4 separate regions of the Homo sapiens genome follow, and regions 1, 2 and 3 are each linked to region 4. The links come from fine-mapping of genetic effects on gene expression. A gene starts in region 4. Each other region holds a variant in brackets. All regions are shown on one strand. Distances are from middle to middle. Region 1 overlaps SFT2D2 (SFT2 domain containing 2). Region 2 has its middle 3.4 kb from the start of SFT2D2. Region 3 overlaps SFT2D2 (SFT2 domain containing 2). Region 4 holds the start of TBX19 (T-box transcription factor 19).

Evidence for each region. PIP is the estimated chance that this variant, and not a neighbour inherited with it, causes the effect.
Region 1: its variant is fine-mapped to the expression of TBX19 in whole blood (TOPMed, PIP above 0.99).
Region 2: its variant is fine-mapped to the expression of TBX19 in whole blood (TOPMed, PIP above 0.99).
Region 3: its variant is fine-mapped to the expression of TBX19 in whole blood (INTERVAL, PIP 0.98).

What each region holds. Positions count from the first base shown.
Region 1 is chr1:168,240,432-168,245,582 of GRCh38, reverse strand. It overlaps SFT2D2 (SFT2 domain containing 2), which reads right to left. Exons shown (of 8, transcript NM_199344.3): 8 at 1-3,082. The coding sequence ends at 3,043. It also overlaps the pseudogene ANKRD36BP1. Among named protein-coding and RNA genes, the nearest start is that of SFT2D2, 17 kb to the right of the region's middle. The variant G/C (reference allele first, on the strand shown) is at 2,789.
Region 2 is chr1:168,220,013-168,225,163 of GRCh38, reverse strand. No RefSeq gene overlaps it. Among named protein-coding and RNA genes, the nearest start is that of SFT2D2, 3.4 kb to the left of the region's middle. The variant C/T (reference allele first, on the strand shown) is at 1,956.
Region 3 is chr1:168,248,316-168,253,466 of GRCh38, reverse strand. SFT2D2 (SFT2 domain containing 2) reads right to left here. Exons shown (of 8, transcript NM_199344.3): 8 at 446-5,151. Among named protein-coding and RNA genes, the nearest start is that of SFT2D2, 25 kb to the right of the region's middle. The variant T/C (reference allele first, on the strand shown) is at 2,653.
Region 4 is chr1:168,278,135-168,283,285 of GRCh38, reverse strand. It overlaps TBX19 (T-box transcription factor 19), which reads right to left and starts at 2,409. Exons shown (of 8, transcript NM_005149.3): 1 at 1,993-2,409. The coding sequence starts at 2,195.

The DNA.
Region 1 (5,151 bases), 38 kb after region 4:
AAAAAAAAAAAAAAAAAAGCCTGCTTGGCTTTGGATGGGGACTGCATTATATCTATAGATTAATATGGGAAAGAATTAACATCAACAATGTTGAGTCTCTCAACCTATCAACAAGATATTTACTTAGGTCTTAATTTTTCTTAGCAATGCTTTTTAGTTATCAGTGTACAGATAATCCACATAGTTTGTCGGGTTTATTCCCAAGAATTTTATATTTTAATGCTATTGTAAATGGTATTATTTTTAAATTTTCAATTCCTAATTCTTTACTTCTAACATGGAGAAACACAATTGATTTGTGTATATCAATTATATATCCTGCTGTGTTGCGAAACTCACTTGCTGGTTTCAGTAACTTAGTAATGGATTTGATTTGGTTTTCTACATAGATGATAATATCTGTGAATAGACAGTTTTACTCATTTCTTTTCAATCTAAAGGCCTTTCATTTTTCTCCTTCCCTCCCTCTTTCCCCCTACTCCCAATTAAAACATGATTGCAGTGGCTAGAATTTTCAGTACAACGTTGAATAGAAGTGGTAAGAGTTGACATCTCTGTCTTATTCTCAATCTTAGGGGAAAACATTCAGCCTTTCATCATTACATAGGATGTTAGCAGTAGATATTTTAAAGATGCCCTTCGACAGGTTGAGGAAATTCTCTTGTATCCCTAGTTTGCTGAGATTATTTTTTAAACAAAGCATGGTTGTTCAATCTAAAAAAAAAAAAAGGACATGGACATGGAGGGATGAGCCTTCTAGGTGTCTTATTCCAGGCTGCTGGAGCTGCTGGAGCTCACAGTGACTAGCCAAGCCTCGTATCAGTTCTAAAGAAAAGGAACCATGAGCCCTCCTGACCTCCTCCATGTCCCTTCTGACACCACAGCCCTTCTGAGATCTGTCTCCAAGAGGCACCTGGGATGTGAAAGAATCCCACAAAAGCCAGAGGGGTAGCATAAAATTTCCTTTCCTGGCTGAGGACAGGTTAGTGACCTGAGCAGATGACTGGATGTCATCAATAGCCTAGAAAGAACCTGGGAAGACTAGCTCCTCTCTCTGGCCCCGTCAGGCTTGTTCACACCTCCCCAGCCTCAGAAGAAAAGATCAGCAGGGCACAGTGGCTCACACCTGTAATCCCAGCACTTTGGGAGGTCAAGGTGGGCGGATTACCTGAGGTCAGGAGTTCCAGACCAGCTTGGCCAACATGGTGAAACCCTGTCTCCACTAAAAACACAAAAATTAGCACGGGCGTGGTGGCGGGCACCTGTAATCCCAGCTACTTGGAAGGCTGAGGCAGGAGAATTGCTTGAACCCGGGAGGTGGAGGTTGCAGTGAGCAGAGATCACGCCACTGCACTCCAGCCTGGGCGACGGAGTGAGACTCCATCTCAAAAAGAAAAAAAAAAAAAAACCAGTCAGAGTTCTTAGCCACAGTAGGACAAAGAAAGGTTCAGCAATTAGCCACAAGAAAGGGGACAACCAGCAGGCCACTTCCTTTGGTTTAGCAGTGACAGAGGAGGAGCCCTAGTGGACCAGTTGGCCCTGTGCAAAGAACAGAAAGGCAATCCAGATAAACGTCATTTGTAGGATGACTCTGGAGGTCCTGGAGGGCCAGGAATGCTGGCTGACAAGACAGGGCACTAATCGTAGTCAGGCAACAAGGAGGAGCTGAAAGGGAACACAAGGGACAGTGAACATCCTGCAGATCCAGGAAGAAGCTTCCAAAAGAGATGGGCAGGGAGGGCCAGGGAGGAGATGGCTTGGCTGATGAAAACGAGGGAAACAGTCACAGGCAGTTACAGGAGGCACAACCAGAAACAGGCCAGGAAACTCTGGGGTCATGAAGGAGGCTGAAGCTGTGGCTTTGGGTGGATCCAAAAACCAGTGTGGGCCTTGATTCCCTTGACTGCACAGTGGTATAACAATCCCTGCTTCCTCACAAGGCTCTCCATAAGAACCAGGTAAGATCGTGGACACAAAAGCACTTTGTAGGTTAGGCATCAGGCTGACATGAGACCACCTGCAGTTTATCCCCAGTGTCCCCAGCACAGGCTAAGTGCAAACACTGGGACTATTTAAAGGTCACTGGGCAGGCGTGCCTACTTCCTGCTGGCTGCACAGCAGGGATCTGTCTTCCCACCCCACTCTCCCCTGGCCCAACTCCAGGGGAGAATGGAAAATAAAATCAGTTTAAAAGCAAACATTTATAAATAATGGAGAAAAAAATATAGCTGAGAGCAGCAGGATTTTTCAACTCCTATGGGCTCTCGTCCAAAAAAAAAACAGCAGCATTTTCTGCTGCTGCTCTGTTCTTTCCCCATCTAGTGCCAGGAGGTCATAAAGAAAGATATGCAGGGAGAGGGAGGGAGGGATGGGAAATAAAACCCAAGAGAAAAAGAGTCTGCACCTAATGTCAGAAAATACATTCCACAGTCAGGCGCAGAATCAGAACACCAAGAATGCTTAGATTCAAATTCAGAAACAGCATATACCACCAAAAAGTGCTTCTTTTCTACCTCACTCCATGGCCAGGCTCTCCAGGGGCTTGTCTAAAGCAGAGTCACTTGTTCTCAGATGCCAGAGTAGAAGCAGACTCACTCTATGCAGGACCACGGTGATGGCTTCCATGCTGAGGGACAAGTGGACCCCAAAACTCTGTCCCTTACTGTTGCTCCCGTGATCTCTGATGGGGCTGCCTTTTGCCACCTGGGAATCACTTGCACCCAAGGCTTATGTGCTGTTGCTGAATAGGTTTGTATTCATGGGAATTCAGTGGGACAACATCCAGAGA[G/C]GAAACAGGTACATGAGGAAGATTCCACTCCACAAGATACAGAACCCACTTCTCATCCTGTGCTACTGACATTCAGGTTCGAGAATGTATTGTTGCTTCCAAAAGTAACCCTCAAATGTTCGAATCACAAGCAACACATTGCTGCAAGATAAAAGGCACATGTCTGTAAGACAGAGGTTTCGAAGATAGTTACAAAACTGTCCACCAGCTTCTGTCCATAGTGCCTTCCAAAGCTTCATAAAACTGGCCATGAATTATGCAAGACACACGGCAAAACACTTCTTCACAGCATCCCTAGGAAAGAAAAGACACAAAGATGAGTGGAACGTCATCACCCCAAAGGCACTCCTTTAGAGGGCACCCAGAGTGGAAGCTGCAGAGTAGAAAGCACCTAGACTGAAAGATCAGACCTTCACAGCATCAAACTGCAGCTTCAACATTTATTAGTAGTACTATCCTGGGAAAGTTCCTTGTCCTGTTTGAGTTTCAAATTCCTCATCTGTAAGAGGGGATGTCCCCACTTACCCGACAGTCTGATTATGGGATTAGCCATCATAATCAGAGAAAAAGATAACATAGACTGTCAGAAACTAAGAAATCAGTCAGGATTGCTGCACTTTAATATCGGTCAAAATCACAGAATGCACTGACAGCATTAAATCAAATATTAACTGGGACCTTTCTTCATTCTAAGCAGGCAGCAGAAGGGAGCTCACTATGGGTCCTGAGCACTTATTAATATGCTATAATGGCCTTATCACAGGTATTTACTGCTTGGAATTCAGTGTAGAGGGTGCAAGGAAGAGTTGGTCTTCAAGAAATTACTATTCTACCCAAGCAAGCACTTCCATTTCCACCACCACACCACACTGTGCAATGTGGCACTAGGCTTCTCATACCCCAGCTCTGTTCCACGTTCTCAACTGTGCTGCACTAAGGACATTGGGAGTCACATAAGGGAGGGAGAGGTGAATGGATGCATTTCCATGAGTAGGCACTGCATTTTAATATCAAGATGGTTCCAGGGCAGCATTTCTTGAGATATACTCTGCACTGTAGTCTCAGAAGAGTCTCTGCACAAGAAGGGTTTTATGGCCACATAAGTCCCCCTCATGGCAGCTCACAATACACATAGCATATGGAAGGATCTAGCAAGCCAGGCAAAGAGGAACCTACCTAATTTTGCTTAACCTGTTTCTCAAACTTACTTGATCATAGAACTCTTTTCTTCCACAGAAACACTATTTCTGTGGAACACTGTGGGAAAAGCTATTCCAGGGGAACTTACAAATAGAAGGGTGGGGCCAGGCATGGTGGTTCGGACCTGTAAACCCAGCACTTTGGGAGGCCGAGGTGGGCCAATCACTTGAGGTCAGGAGTTCGAGACCAGCCTGGCCAACACGGTGAAACCCCATCTCTACTAAAAATACAAAAAATGAGCCTGGCATGGTGGCGTGCACATGGAGGCTGAGGCAGGAGAACAGCTTGAAGCCAGGAGGTTGGAGACTGAGGTGAGCTGACATCGGGCCACTGCACTCCAGCCTGGGCCATAGAGTGAGACTCCATCTCAAAAAAAAAAAAAAAAAAAAGAATAGAAGGGTGGGATCTAGCTCTGTGATTCCCTCCCTACTAGAGGAGTAATTCGTCTCCTCAGCACATGAAACTCACTATCTCAAATAAAATTCCCTCATTCTATCAATCACTTGTACATAAATTTTATACATGCCAATCCAGATCAAGACTGAAGCTCTGACAAATGACTCCAAGCAAGTTTCACGAATGAGACCTGTGCAACTGCATTGGCCCCATACTCAGAAGGGTCCACATTGGGTTTAATGCCTTGATTTGATGTTGCCATCTTGAAATTCTTAATCTTTTTTTTTGAGACAGAGTCTCCCTCTGTTGCCCAGGCTGGAGGGCAATGGCGTGATCTCGGCTCAGTGCAACCTCCGCCTCCCAGGTTCAAGCGATTCTACTGCCTCAGCCTCCTGAGTAGCTGGGATTACAGGTGCACGCCACCACGCTCGGTTAATTTTGGTATTTTTAGTAAAGACAGGAGTTCACCACGTTGGTCAAGCTGGTCTTGAACTCCTGACCTCGTGATCCGCACACCTCAGCCTCCCAATGTGCTGGGATTATAGGCTGAGCTACCGTGCCCGGCCTATGATTTTTGAACAAGAAGCTCACATTTTTATTTTGCACTGGGCCCTGAAAACTATGCAGCTGGTTCAGGGACCAAAAAATATTCATATGTTGGCAGGTTGATCAATATCTCATTGGATCCTCAGTAATGATGAACTCCGGTTTACTTCACATAAAAATCTAGCTTCCCAGGACATCCCTGCCCATATTCTTCTCAGACA
Region 2 (5,151 bases), 58 kb after region 4:
AATGGCTTGGACTCAGGAGGTCAAGGCTGCAGTAAGCCATGATTGTCAGTACAGTAAGCCACTGCACTCTAGCTTGGGCAACAGAGTGGAAACAATACAAATGGCCACCAACTGATTAATGGTAAATAAAATGTGACATACCCATGCAATAAAAAAGAATGGAGTACTGACACATGCTACAACGTGGATGAACCTCGAAAACATTGTATTAAGTGAAAGAAGTGTGGAGCCCGAAAATTTGAGACAGGTCTCAGTTAACCAGGAAGTTTATTTTGCCAAGGTTGAGGAACAGCACCTGTGACACAGACTCAGGAAGTCCTGACGACATGTGCCCAAGGTCGTTGGGGCATAGCTTGGTGTTATACATTTTAGGGAGACATGAGGCATCCGTCAATATGTGTAAGAAGTACATTGGTTGTGTTTGGAAAGGCGGGACAACTCGAAGCAAAGGCAGGAAGACTCAAGGGGGGAGGGGGCTTCCAAGTCACAGATAGGTGAGAGACAAATGGTTGCACTCCTTTGAGTTTTTGATTAGCCTTTCCAAAGGAGGCAATCAGATGTGCATTTATCTCAGTGAACACAGTGATAACTTTGAATAGAATGAGAGGCAGATTTGTTCTAAGCAGTTCCCAGCTTGAATTTTCCCTTTAGTAATTTGGGGGGGCCCAAGATATTTCCCTTTCACAGAAGCTAGACACAATAGACCATATATTGTATGATTTCATTTATAGGAAATGTCCAGAATAGGCAAACCCATAGAAACAGAAAGTAGACTAATGGTTGCCTAGGGATGGAGGAGGGGAAATGGTAGTAAGAGACTAATGGGGTGATTTAAATGTTCTGGAATTAGATTGTGGTAATGGTTGCATGCACAGCTCTGAACATACTAAAAACCATTGAATTGTATGCTTTGAATTAACTGTATGGCATATGAATTCTATTGCAATAAAGCCATTTCAAAAATGCTTAGAACAGTGCTCAGTATATATTTCACAATCCATTAATATTATCTATTGTAAAATGTAACAGGCATCCACTCTTATCTTTCTCCAATGTGTCTGAGTCTGAACCCAGAATATGGGCTCCTGATTTACCTACATTTATATTTGCACATTGTGCAATTGGCCCATTACAAGGTGATTCATTGTAGCATTGTTTGTAATAGAAAAAAATTGGAAACAACTTAAAAGTTCATAAATGAGGGAAGTGCTTAAATAAATTATGGTACATTCATTCACAAGAATACTAAGTAGTCATTAAACACAGAAGAATGAGGAAGGTTTAATCAATGTCTTCAGAAGGTTTTTTCTGACTGTGCCACACCATCCCTTGAAGGATCTTTGTAAACATAAGTCTGACTCATTTGTTGCCCTGCTTAACATCTCCCACAGTGTGGTAAACTGAAAAATGTTCCCCAAAAGATACCCATGTCCTAATCTCTGGAAAGTGTACATGTTACCTTAGACAGTGAAAAGTGGAGTGGGGGTGGTATTTTGTGCAGGTAATTAAGGATCTTAAAATAGATTATGCACAATTATCCAGGTGAGCCATAAATGCAATCATGTATATCCTTATAAGAGGGAAGCAGAGGGAGATTTGACACCAACAGAAGAGGAGAAGGCACTGTGACCACAGAGGCAGAGATGGGAGTGATGCAGCCACAAGCCAAGGAATGCCAGTAGCCACTAGAAGCTGGAAGAGGCAAGGAAAGGATTCTCCCCTAGAGCCTCCAGAGGGAGCATAGTCCTGCCAATAGCTTGTTTTCAGCATTTCTGGCCTCCAGAACTGTGAGAGAATCCATTTCTGTTGCCACCAAATTTCTGATATGTAACAGCAGCTGCAGGAAACTAATGCCCATGTTCCCTACCACCTACAGATAAATTGCTGCTGACTTCTCAGCAACACATACCTTCCTCTTTGGGTTCATCTCTCTCCTTTCTCTCACATACTCCAGG[C/T]TCCAGGCATAGGAGACTGTAGTTCCTGAACTCATTGTGTTCCCTACCTTGTCCTGGAAAACACCTACTCTTTTCCATCCTTGTCCCTTTCCCTTCCCCTAACACACAGTTCTCTCAAGTCACCTTATTCTTACCTCCACCATAACACTTAGCACAATATGCTCCATTTGTTCACATTAGGGTCCCTATGGGGCATAGATCTTATTTGTCTTTCCATCCCCAGTGCCAAGCACAGTGCCTGGAACGTATAGTAGGTGCTAAATAAATAGTAACCTACTCTAGTCATTGGCCAGGCGCGGTGGCTCATGCCTGTAATCCCAGCAGTTTGGGAGGCTGAGGCAGGTGGATCAGGAGGTCAGGAGTTTGAGACCAGCCTGTCCAACATGGTGAAACCCTGTCTCTACTAAAAATACAAAAAAATTAGCCGGGCATGGTGGCAGTCGCCTATAATCCCAGATACTCTGGAGGCTGAGGCAGGAGAATCACTTGAACCTGGGAGGCAGAGTTGCAGTGAGCCGAGATCGCCCCATTGCCCTCCAGCCTGGGCAACAAGAGCGAAACTCCGTCTCAAATAAATGAATAAATAAATAACCTACTCTAGTCACTGGTCACATTCTCATTCCCCACTGTGCAATGCAGATGCAAACAAGTCCTCAAGGCTGAGTGATGTACTCCCTCACAGCCTTTCTGTACCTCTGTTTTGCCAGGATGAACAAACAGGAAGCTTTAGATGAAATTTTATGTGCGCTCTATTAAATTTCACCCTCCTCTCAGCAAAAGCTAAACACAAAAAAAGTTCTTACAAAGTCTCTTAGAAGTGTGTGTGCAAGGAAGCTCTAAGGAGTTAGCTTCCAAGGAATAGGAAGTAAGGCAGTTCTCTGAGCATTATTAATGCATGAAATTAACACAGAATTCATCAGGGTGGACATATTCCTACTTGGTTATTAAGAAAAAGCCCTTAGAAAATCATGATTGAATACCTTAATGTATCTAGAATAGGAAAAGGAGAAGGAAAGGAAGGCCATTCCTCAAACTGGTTAATCCTAGGGGCTAGGAAAAGGAGACTCCTAAGGCAGTGTTGGCAAAGCCCATTTAAGCACAGCACAGGTCAGACATAGTTCTGGTGTCTGAGTCCCACATGAAGCAGGTTTATCCTTATCACAATTGTAAGAGCCTAGGCCACCATGCAAATCCTGAACTTTCTTCCTTTTTTTTTTTTTTTGAGATGGAGTCTCATTCTGTCACCCAGGCTGGAGTGCAGTGGCACGATCTCGGCTCACTCCAACCTCCACCTCCCAGCTTCAAGCGATTCTCCTGCCTCAGCTTCCCAAGTAGCTGGAACTACAGGTGTGCACTACAACACCCAGCTAATTTTTGTATTTTTTTAATAGAGACGGGGTTTCACTATATGTTGGCCAGGCTGGTCTTGAACTCCTGACCTCAGGTGATCCGCCCACCTCGGCCTCCCAAAGTGCTGGGATTACGGGCATGAGCCACCGCATCCAGCGTATTCTTTTATTTTGATTTCTTACATACCAAGAAGGCTTCTCCATTATAAAATCTGCTGCTCCCAGGAAGATGTCAGTCTTCTGAATGGTCACAATTCAGACCTTGAAGCCGTGAAGCCAAGAGACAGATCTTTGAAGGACACTTAGGGTTGTGCCATTCTGTGGATATTTGTAGGGGCAGCCAGGCCTCCCCTCTACTTCCAGTGGGTATTCTTGCCTTTTCTTCAGTCTTCCACATGAAGTAAATAAATGAAGTAGAAACCCTAGCTGAACCAATCAGGACAGTGCCTCTTGTTCTATTTTGGCATCACAGACCCTTTTGAGAGTATGATTGTCATGGAGCCTCTCCCCACCTGCCCCTGTGGGGAAAAGTGGCCCACACTACCAGCAGTGTCATATATGCCAGGCGTTCTGCCATGACTATGGGCCCTTGGTTGAAAACCCCAGGTTTAGAGAAAAACATTCAGATACACACCACCAGCCTTATGTATCGCTCCAAGCCCTAGATTGCTTTGTGTGTTCACCTGATTTTAGTGGTGGAGTAAGAGTTTAAATGATTTTTCCAAAGTCCCTTTGAGGGAGAGGCATGACCATTTAAAGGTAGGAAAGGAAGCTGAAAAGTAACTGTTTGATGTCAGTATTCTCATGGCCCCATGGCTTCTTTATCAATTACAATATAGCTGGCTGATAAACGAACTGTTGTATAGACAGGGATGAAAGAAACCATTTAAATCCAGGAGTGTTCAGAATTGCAGATAATAAGACTCTCCCAGTCATCACTGCAGGGAAGTAACTTTGCAATACATGAATGTTGTAAGGAGGGCTCTGATGCCCCACCTCATACCTGCTTGCCCGTGTACCAGCAATAGACATGAATCCCCGTGTACCAGCAATAGACATGAAGTTTGATATGCTTTGGCTCTGTGTCCCCACCCAAATGTCATCTGGAATTATAATCCCCACGTGTCAGGGGAAGGGCCTAGTGGGTGGTGATTGCATCACGTGGGTGGTTTCCCTTACACTGTTCTCACGATAGTGAGTTCTCATGAGATCTGATGGTTTAAAAGTGTGTGGCAGTTTCTCCTTCACTCTTTCTCCCTGACACCATGTGAAGAAGGTCCTTGGTTCCCGTTCACTTTCCATCATGATTGTAAGTTTCCTGAGGCCTCCCTAACTGTGCAGAACTGTAAGTAAATTACAATTAAGCCTTTTTTCTTCAAAAATTACCCAGTCTCAGGAGGTTCTTTATAGCAGTGTGAAAACAGACAGTCGTTTCTCTCCTCACGCCCTGCCGTGTGTGTGTGTGTGTGTGTGTGTGTGTGTGTGTGTGTGTGTGTGTGTAGGGGTGGGGGTTTCGGGGGGGAGCGCGGGGAGGATAGCAGAAAATGGCTTACAGAGAGAAATCCCCCCTCCCTCTGTCTCTGTACAGGGAAGCTGTTTTCTCCTTCCTTCCATCTTTCTTGACTGTTGAACTTTTCACTCCTTAAAACTACTCCACGTGTGTCCATGTTGTTTTATCAAAATTGGTGCGAGACTAAGGACCCTGGTGTTCGAACACTCCAGTCATCAGAGCTGTTTCAGTATTGGGAAGGGGGATCCAGCCATCAACCTGGAGCCAAACCCCAACCAACGAGATGCGACTATAAATGGGACACTCTGGGGCACGTTCCACAAGGTTCTGCAGAAGT
Region 3 (5,151 bases), 30 kb after region 4:
CAGCTACTTCGGAGGCTGAGGCACAAGAATCACTTGAACCTGGGAGGCCGAGGTTGCAGTGAGCCAAGAACACACCACTGCATTCCAGCCTGGGCAGCAGAGTGAGACTCCATCTCAAAAATATATATATTTATTTGTTTGTATGTATGTATGTATGTATGTATGTGTGTGTGTATTTTTTTTCCAAAATAAACACTTAAGGAAATGTCTTACTTTTTAAAAACCTTCCAAACTGTCCCTAGACCCATGTGAAACCCTAAGTCATTTAAAAGAGAGGACTACATGTCAGGTTAGGTCCCCCAAAACATCTTTAAGTGCCTATAATGTGTGCTACACACTGAGAATTCAAATTAAAGATACGGTTTTTTCTTACAGTTCTACAGTCTTCCTTTGGCTTAAAGACTCCTGGAAATACAGACATGAGTAAGAGACAACACTAGATTTATTAAAGATCATAATGCTATCATTTATTGAAGAAAGAAAGCAAAAAAAACTAACAATTGTGATGGGGGAGGAGAGACAGCTTGGCAACATTCCTTTTAAAGTTAAGTTAGCATAAAGAAAACAATATTTAGTAAATGAAATAGATTTTCAAGGTAGGAAAAGTAGTACTCAAGAATGTATTTTTGGATACAAAAATTCAGTTACACAATCAGTAGCATTCAAAATTAGTTATGAGTATTTATACAATTACAAAAATGGATTCATGTTTTAACAACGTATTTTAAAAGCTCAAACATTTTAAAACAGGCACAATATTCTAAAGGCATATGCATTCACCATGGGCTTTTGAATGTCCTCACTCCCAACTTCACAATCAAAATCTACAGAAGCGGCAAAAGATCAGAGTTCAGAGGGCTATTTTTTTTTTCCCTTTCCTTACTTAAGGTTGCAAACACATTGACAGAGGCAAAATAAACACGTTTCATAGCAGAAAGACCAAAAAATTGAATGTAAACCATAGCTCTCCCTTGGGAGATTACACAAATACAAGGTTCATCTGTACTTAGAACAAGGCTCATAACTTCTTGTAGCATGGACATTCAACAGGCACAGAGCAACAACATTCACCCAAATACCAGCTGCAATTTGTCCTTTAAGGATGCCTCACAAGGATATTATGTCCAGGTAGCTAGTCCATTTATATCGGGGACCAGTTGTCCTTTTGTTGTTTGTGGCTGTTTATTAAATGTAGTGGCACAACTTTGTTGTGAATATGTACCATCATTTGCTACAATCTAGACAGATCATCCTGTCTACAAAAAATCATTTTCTACATTTCTAAGACCATTATCAGTTTATCTGCTCCTGCTAGAAAAGGACATACTTTTTGTCAATTTACATTAACAAAGGCTCTGCTACTCCCCATTTACTCGCTGCAATGAAAACTGGTAAGCCAAGGGTAAAGCTTAAGTATCAGGGACTATGAATTTAGGGTAGAAGTGAAAATAACCAAAGTGGAACTAAATCCCCTATTCTTGAGTGCAACTGAGATCAAGTAAACTTCGCTGGACTTTCTTCTTAACTATAAAACTATTAACCAGAAGGTAAAGTCACACAATTTTACCTCCCAACAAACTTTTAAAATAAAAATTTCCAAAAAATTTAGATGTCTAGGTTTTGTTATATCTTACCAAGAGTTACACAGACATAAATTTGTATTTAACTTCAGTTAAACATCTATTCACTTTTTAAAAATGCTGTCTGCAAATAAACTACTGGACATCTTAAGCTTACTAAAAAAAACTTAAGATTTTTAAATTAAAAAAAAAAAACTAGGACAAAAATCTAGCAAATGGTTTCACGTACCTTTAAACACTGATTCTTAAAAATTTATATGCTGAAAATGAGGTTTGAGAATACGTATTTTAAACCATTTATAATCCTACCGTCGACTCTAGTCAGAAGTTATCTGAGCAAAGAGAAAATAAAGCCTGGCGTAGACAGTCCCATAGAAAATAGAATCCATAGCCACTGGGCTGCCCTTCAATTTCCCAATTCATTCCACTAAGTCTCATGATGCAAATCTGTCACTTTCATAGAGCTATCAAAAACAGAAGCCAAGCCAGATCCTCCACACTTTAAGATATGGTTCCTTATTATCTATTTTAACAGAAGTATCAAAAAGTGATTTTTTTTTTTATTTATTTTTGAGACAGAGTCTCACTCTGTTGCTCAGGCTGGAGTGCAGGGGTGCGATCTCGGCTCACTGAACTTCCACCTCCTGGGTTCAAGCAATTCTTGTGCCTCAGCCTCCCTCCCAAGTAGCTGGGATTATAGGCGCACACCAGCTAGCCTGGCTGATTTTTTTGCTGTTGTATTTTTTGTAGAGATGGGGTTTTGCCATGTTGGCCAGGCTGGTCTTGAACTCCTGACCTCAAGCGATCCACCCACCTCAGCCTCCCAAAGTGCTCAGATTACAGGTGTGAGCCACTGCACCCAGCCAAAAGGTAATTTTATTTGGAATGCATTTCATGATTTTATTTCTTGCTCCCTGAGCCTGCAGTGATTAGGGTGGAAGGGAAGTGGCACTCAGGCAGATAATTCACAAAGTCACCACACAAGGGTGATAGATGATCCACCACTGAGATAATCAACCCAGTGAAAATGCTACACTGGGGACCATGTTTTGCCCTTCCCAGACAAGACATC[T/C]TGAGCTAGGATCTGAGCTACGGCTATGCAGAGGAGCAGAACTGAAGGCTCCGTTTGAGCCCTTTCTGCAAAAGGGGATGCATTTCAGATAATGAGACAAGAGACGGGAGTGAGTTAGTACACAGCACGCCCAATACCCAACAAGCAGCCTCAGAGAGACTGGGAGAAGGGGGAGAGGGGACTGGAAGCCATCTCTTCTGTTCTGAAGGGCAGTGCTCCTCCCAAGACAGCACTCAGAGAGCCAACAGCCCAGGGCAGATCACGCCAGGACAGTGCTTCCATATGGCTGGCTGAGCACCATATTCCAATCTGCAAAAGAGTCACCTTATTGGTTCCCTTAACTTCCAAAATGCAGCAAGCCCTCCTTCACCCAGCAGTGAACGGAAGGGAAGGGAATGCAGGGCAGCAGGGAGACAGAGACCATCATTAACTACAGGTCTGAAACCCTAATTCTTTACTCACTCATCAGGTTGCTTTTAATCACTGCTGTTGCTTGGTAACAGGTTTCAGCAGATTTGAAATGGATTTCTTCCTCCCACAGTCTAACAAAAACAAGTAGGGAAACAACCAAAGAATAAGGCAACTTAAGGAAAAACGCAGGAAGACCCTGGGAGGCAGGGTCATGCAAAAGCTGCCAATGGTGTCCTGATGGGAGCTGTCTGAGCAAACTGGCCACAGGCCGTGAGTGAAAGCAAAGCAGAAGCCTTTCTACAAGACCCATCTCCTGCCAAGAACCCCTCCCTGACGCCTCCACTCGTGGGGTCTGGGATAGGCTCTTTACCTTCTCAGAGGATGGAGGCAATACCATTCACTGGGCAGTCACTGTGAATATTGAATGAGATAAAACATGGCAGTGTCTACAGCGCCGGGCACATAGTACTAGATAAGTATTTGTTAAATAAATTAATGATCGGAGACATTCACTCTCATCTTCCAAAGTTGTCAGTTATTTCTGGGATTAAATAACACCTACCCTACTGAGACTCTACTTATGCCAAGCCCTATTCTAAGCACTTGACACGTCTCACTGACATCTTGCAATGACCCAGCAGGAACTGTTATTCCCACAATTTTTAAACAGATGAACAAACTGAGGAGCCAGAGGTTAGGTAACCTGTTCAAAATGACACAACTAGTATATGACTAGTCACAGCTCACAGCCAGATGCATCTGACTTCAAAGCCTACATTCACTACTAGTATGCTATACAGGTGACATCTTAAAAGGTACCTTGGCCTCATGTCCCACAAAGTCAATCCAGGCATTAAAAAGGACATGGGGCTGGGCATGGTGGCTCACGCCTGTAATCCCAGCACTTTGGGAGGCCGAGGCAGGAGGATCACTTGAGGTCAGGAGTTCGAGACCAGCCTGGCCAACATGGTGAAACCCTGTTTCTACTAAAAATACAAAAATTAGCCGGGTGTGGTGGCACATGCCTGTAGTCCCAGTTTCTTGGGAGGCTGAGGCACAAGAATCACTTGAACCCAGAAGGCAGAGGTTGCAGTGAGCTGAGATCATGCCACCGCACTCTAGCCTGGGAAACTGAGCAAAACTCCATTTCAAAATTAAAGCAGTGTGTAGAGGGAAATTTATAGCACTAAATGCCCACAAGAGAAAGCAGGAAAGATCTAAAATCAACACCCTAACATCACAATTAAAAGACCTAGAGAAGCAAGAGCAAACAAATTCAAAAGCTAGCAGAAGACAAGAAATAACTAAGATTAGAGCAGGACTGAAGGAGATAGAGACCACGAAAAAAACAATGAATCCAGGAGCTGGTTTTTTGAAAAGATCAACAAAATAGATAGACTGCTAGCCAGACTAATAAAGAAGAAAAGAGAGAAGAATCAAATAAATGCAATAAAAAATGATACAGGGGATATCACCACCGATACCACAGAAATACAAACTACCATTAGAGAATACTATAAACAACTCTACGCAAATAAAGTAGAAAATCTAGAAGAAATGGATAAATTCCTGGACATATACACCCTCCCAAGACTAAACCAGGAAGAAGTCGAGTTCCTGAATAGACCAATAACAAGTTCTGAAATTGAGGCAGTAATTAATAGCCTACCAACCATAAAAAGTCCAGGACCAGATGGATTCACAGCCGAATTCTACCAGAGGTACAAAAGGGAGCTGGTACCATTCCTTCTGAAACTATTCCAAACAATAGAAAAAGAGGGAATCCTCCCTAACTCAATAGATGCAGAAAAGGCATTCAACAAAATTCAACAGCCCTTCATGCTAAAAACTCTCAATAAACCAGGTATTGATGGAACGCATCTCAAAATAAGAAGAGCTATTTATGACAAACCCACAGCCAATATCATACTGAATGGGCAAAAACTAGAGGCATTCCCTTGGAAAACCAGCACAAGACAAGGATGCCCTCTCTCACCATTCCTACTCAACATAGTACTGGAAGTTCTGGCCAGGGCAATCAGGCAAGAGAAAGAAATAAAGGGTATTCAATTAGGAAAAGAGGAAGTC
Region 4 (5,151 bases):
ACATCCATAGATAAGAACAGCCAAGTTCACCGCAATCAGACTTTTTCTACAAAGAATATTGTTCATGTAGCTAATATTAAATGACGTTAAAGATGAAGGATTTCATTTTGCTTTTTAAAGACAGGGTCTCACCGTGTTGCCCAGACTGATCCCGGGCTCAAGGACCCCTTGCCTCAGCCTCCTGCGTAGCTGGGACAACAGGAGCACACCACCACACTGGGCTGATGTGAAGAATATTACATTTTAAATATAGGGGAAAATTACATAGGCAATAAAAAGGCAAGATAAAACTTTTCTTAAATGGTAAAAGTACATTCCAATGTAACATATTATTAAATTGGAATTTATCATGGTTTCAGAAACTTTTATTATTTATTCCTTATTGAAATAGATGAACCATATATTGACTTGGTAATTGTACTTATTTTTACTTTAATAAATGGCCAATTTGACAGCCCAATCAATAGCATAAGGCTAGGTATTACTGTAATTAGTATCCAATAATACAAAGAAAAATAAGCAGAATGTTCTACCTATAATCAGATATAATAAAATTTTTACAGTTGCATCTTTGCCCATTTTTAAAGGGTCAGAGACTAAATCCAATTAAGAATTTGGTGTAATTCTGTGAAATTAAAACTATGTTTTATGTTTTCTTCTATGAAAGAAGCTAAAAATAATGTGTAAATACAGGTCAAGAGAAGGAACTATAATTACAGTAACAATATTAAAAGCAATAAATCTATATGAAATAAGTGTGGAACCCATTTTGAGAAAGAAAATATAAAAATCAAGCAAGGTTGATATTCCTGCTACTGGTATAATCGCAATTTCTTGAAATGCCCTAATTCAGGTATGGCTTTCATTTTAGAAAGCATTTTAATGCCATGTAACAGCTCTCGAGTTCATAACTCTTCAAGATTGACAAGAAATAGTTCATTTTCTATACTGTGCTTTATTAAAATATAGAAAACCGAGACATCAGGAACGGAAGCACTTTGCACAAGGACAAAAGCCTGACAGAAAGAAGTTCAGATGGCCTCGGCTCTTCTCTTTTATCAGAATTCTCTCGAGGGTGTCATAATTAGAGTTCAGCCAAAACTAAGCCTACTGAAAATGCCTTTCAGCATTTTGTACTTTTGTGACCATGTGTATGAAAAGCTATGTGAACACCAGCTGAATGTTGGAGCCAGTTTGGCCAAGCTGCGAGCGGTGAGATTTTGTTTCAAAATATTTGCGTCTCCTCTACGAAGTGAAATCTTCTAATATTACCTGGACAGCCCCTTAGCAGACTAGGTTTAATAGAATCTGAGAAATGCCACCAGAGATCAGTTTCAGTTAATCCCTAAATTTGTTGCACTGATAAGAAAGAAGGCATCTTCTTTTCTCTAAAGCAGAATAATATGTTTTCATCCACTATTACTGCAACAGCTTTCATATCATCACAAACACACACAATCTCAAATGAACACTCACCACAAACACACACGGGGAAGCAGATGAAGTGATAGGCAATGAGTTTACATTTGCCCTTTTGCTTCCAATCTTCAACTAGCCAAACATTTCTGGCAAGTTTGCTATACTTAGGAGGAGATCATCCAGCTTCCAAATAAAGTTGTCTTTCACCTTATCTGGACGGAGTTGGGGCTCAGGTCTGCGATAGGGTATGCAGCTAGTCACAAATTAATATTATTTTCTGACATTTAAGTCCATTTTCCCATCCCAATGGGGCATGCCCCCCACTTTATGGTAATTTCCCCAGAATTTCTCCATTTAAAATGCACATAAGACAGGTGGCTTCATCCTCTGATGATCTCAGATAAATTAATTAAGTTGGCTGGAGGAAAGCCATTGGAGACAGTCGTTCCTGTAAGCATGTTTAATCAGATCCCGCCGCCTCTGAGTGAAGAGCGGCAGCCTCTTCAATATTCAAGGGGTCTCATCTCTCCTGCCAAGCCCTGCCAGCCCACGCGGGGCGGCAGATAAACTCACCTGCCATTCTTGGTCACAATCATCTCATTAGTGACTTCCTTGAATCTCTGCCAGAGAGGTGCATCCTCCAGGATGATCTGAAGTTGCTTCTCCGTAGGGTCGCCTTTTTCCCTCCCTGCCTGAAGCTCACTCTCCACCACATTGAGCAGATGAGAAACAGTGCCATCGCTGGGCTTCCGAGTGCCCAGCTCACTCATGGCCATAGGCACTTCTCGAACTTTGCCGAGAGCCGTTACCCAACTTGCCTGCTTCTAGCTTCTTCCTTCCCTCACTTGCCTGCTTTTCAAACCCACTTGAACAGTGCTTGGGGAGCGGAGAGAAGATACCCTGGCTCTTGCCTAAGCTCCTAGGATGACACCCCTTAAAAGTCTCCACATTATGCCACCAACCTGTTAAGCTTTAGTTGGGGAGCGGGGTGGAGGCAGGGGAGAGGTAGGGAAGAAAAAGCCCTCTCTTAATTACTCATTGGATCAGGTGGGAGAGAGCCTGGCTTTCCCATTGGCTGCCGTGCACAGAGTAGATATTTAAGAAGAGTACTCCATCCAAATTATCAGGCTTTTATCTTGTTGTACCTGAAGAGGTCTAATCGGTGTATTGAGGACCATTTTCCCATTAATTAAAATTATTCCAGGCCCAGACTGCACTGTCAGGCAAATCATGTTTGTGCATAAATCATGACATGTGGCACCTATAAAGAAAAGGGTCCTGGGGAGAATCGACAAACTTGATGCCCAGGCTATAAGCTACTCTCCAGCATCTTAGACGAAGGCTCTGGAGGGAAGAAAGCATGTATGGAAGGTCCAAGGCACTGTGCCAAGAAACATGACTACTGTACCAGAGAATAAAGGAAGACACTCTGTGTGCCACTGCTCAAGGGTCAGGGCTCCGGAGAAAAGAAAAGAGCTCAGAATCTCTTTCTCCCAGGGTGTCCCCTACTGATCATCTCTCTCCTGAATGTCCTATACTCGCTCACACCCCACTTTTCTCAAGGGCCCTCCTCACCTCCTACAAATGGAGCTGTGAATGTTGTCCTTCCTCCCTAGAGTCTAGAACCCCAATTTTTGTTATCTCTAGCCTTTGCCAGAGGAAGACAAAAAAGCAGCTAGTATCATATTAATCTCGCTAAGGAACACTCTGCCCCCAGTCAGTGAAAATAAACTGTTTACATTATTAGGCAGAGCAATTTCAATCTTTGGTCCAGAAAGGCATTCTGGTTTTCTCTTTAGACAATTCATCCTTATTTTGGCATTCCAGGATGAATCCCACATTCCCTGGGAAGAAACACTAGTAGAAAGCTTTTCTTTTGCCCACAACACACAGTACTAATGGCGAGTGAGTGGATGGCGGGTGGAAGAGACAGGAGCAGAGGAAGCTCTACCTCCTCTGGCCCCCAACCTTGAGTAGAGCCTGGGGGTTGTGAGTTTTTCTCTCATTTCAATACAAAGTAAGAAAACAAGAACATAAGGAAAACAAACCCAAAAAGGTAAGATAAAGTCAGGGTAAGGATGACAGAAAATGTATTCAGGATCTCCTATGCTACATACCTATGAAGCATCACATACAGCAAGGAACAAACAGAAATGGCCTGCGCCTTTACAGAATTAACAATATGATGGAGAAAATAAATGATATAAAGTAAACAACAACTAAGTAATTATCAATAGTGATAAGTCTATGAAGGCTACTTAAAAGGGTGAAGTGATCAAGAAAAATTTGTGCACAGCAGGGTAGGGAACTCCAGTTAGATGGAGTTGTATAGAACAGCTTCTTTGAGGAGGAGACATTTCAGATGAGACCAAAAGCTCAGCAAAGATGTAGTCGGGGAAGAGTTGGCAGAGTGCCAAGCAGAAGAATTACATGTGAGAAGCATGGCTTGAGCCAGGTAGAAATCTCCAGGGAGGCCAGTGTGACCAGAATGTGGTGGTAAAGAGAGCAGAATGAGATGTTCTTTGAGAGAGGGCCAGGCCAGACCATGAGGCCTTAGAAGTCATGATGAAGAATTTGAATGTTCTTCAGCATGAGATAGGAAACAATTGGAGAGTATTAAGTAGGAAAACAGCATGATTGGCTTTGTGTTTGCAAAAAATCTAATCGATTTGTGAAGAATAGACTAGGAAAGGGCAAGAGCTGAAGTAAAGAACAAATTAGAGGCTATGACAGCAATTCAGGCAAGAGCTGGTGATGGCTTAGCCTAGGGTAGTGGCAGTGGCCAAAAAATGAAGTGTACAGGTTCTAGATACACTTTAGAAGTCTATATGACAGAACAACATGAGAGACTGGATATGGGGGTGAGGGAGAGCAGAGAACCATGTGCCTGATCAGAACAATTATTAGATGGCAGGGCCATTTACTGAGATATGGAAGGTGAGGGAGGTGGAAGGGTAGGCAGAGGTACAGTTTGGTTAGGAGACTCAAACATTTCAGTTTCATACAGCTAACACTGAAAAGAATGTGGCAGGCTGAATAAGGACCCCCTGCAAAAGAGACCCATTTCCGAATCCCCAGAACCTGTGAGTGTATTACCTCACATGGGAAAAAGGGACTTTTCAAATGTGATTCAGTTAAGGGTCTTGAGATGGGGAGATTAACCTGGGTTATCTGGTGAGCCCAGTGCAATCGCAAAAATAAGAGGGAGGCAGGAGGATCAAAGTCAGAGGAAGAAGATGTAAGGACAGATGCAGAAGTCAGAGGGGAGAGAAGATGCTACACTCCTGGCTTTGAAGATGGAAAAAGGGGCCAGAAGACACGGAATGTAAGAAGTCTCTAGAAGCTGGGAAAGATAAGGAAATAGATTATCCTCTAAAGCCTCCAGAAGGAACATAGTCCTGCTGACACCTTGGCTTTAGTCCAGTGAAACTAATTTTGGGCTTCTGATTCCCCAAACTGTAAGATAATAGGTTTATGTTGTTTTAAACCACTAAGTTTGTGGTAATTTGGTACAGCAGCAATAGGAGACTAATGCAAAGACTATTAGGTATATAAGTGGAGATTTTGAGAAGGCGCTGCTTAGAACTGTGACACAATTGTGGCTCTGAGCTTCCAAGCAGCCAATGCAAAGTGGGGGAATATAATCTGGCATACATTAAACTGTGTCCCTAAAATAAAAGCAAGCCTTGACCTGTGAGAAATTTCCCCCATAAATCTTTATGAGGAAAACGC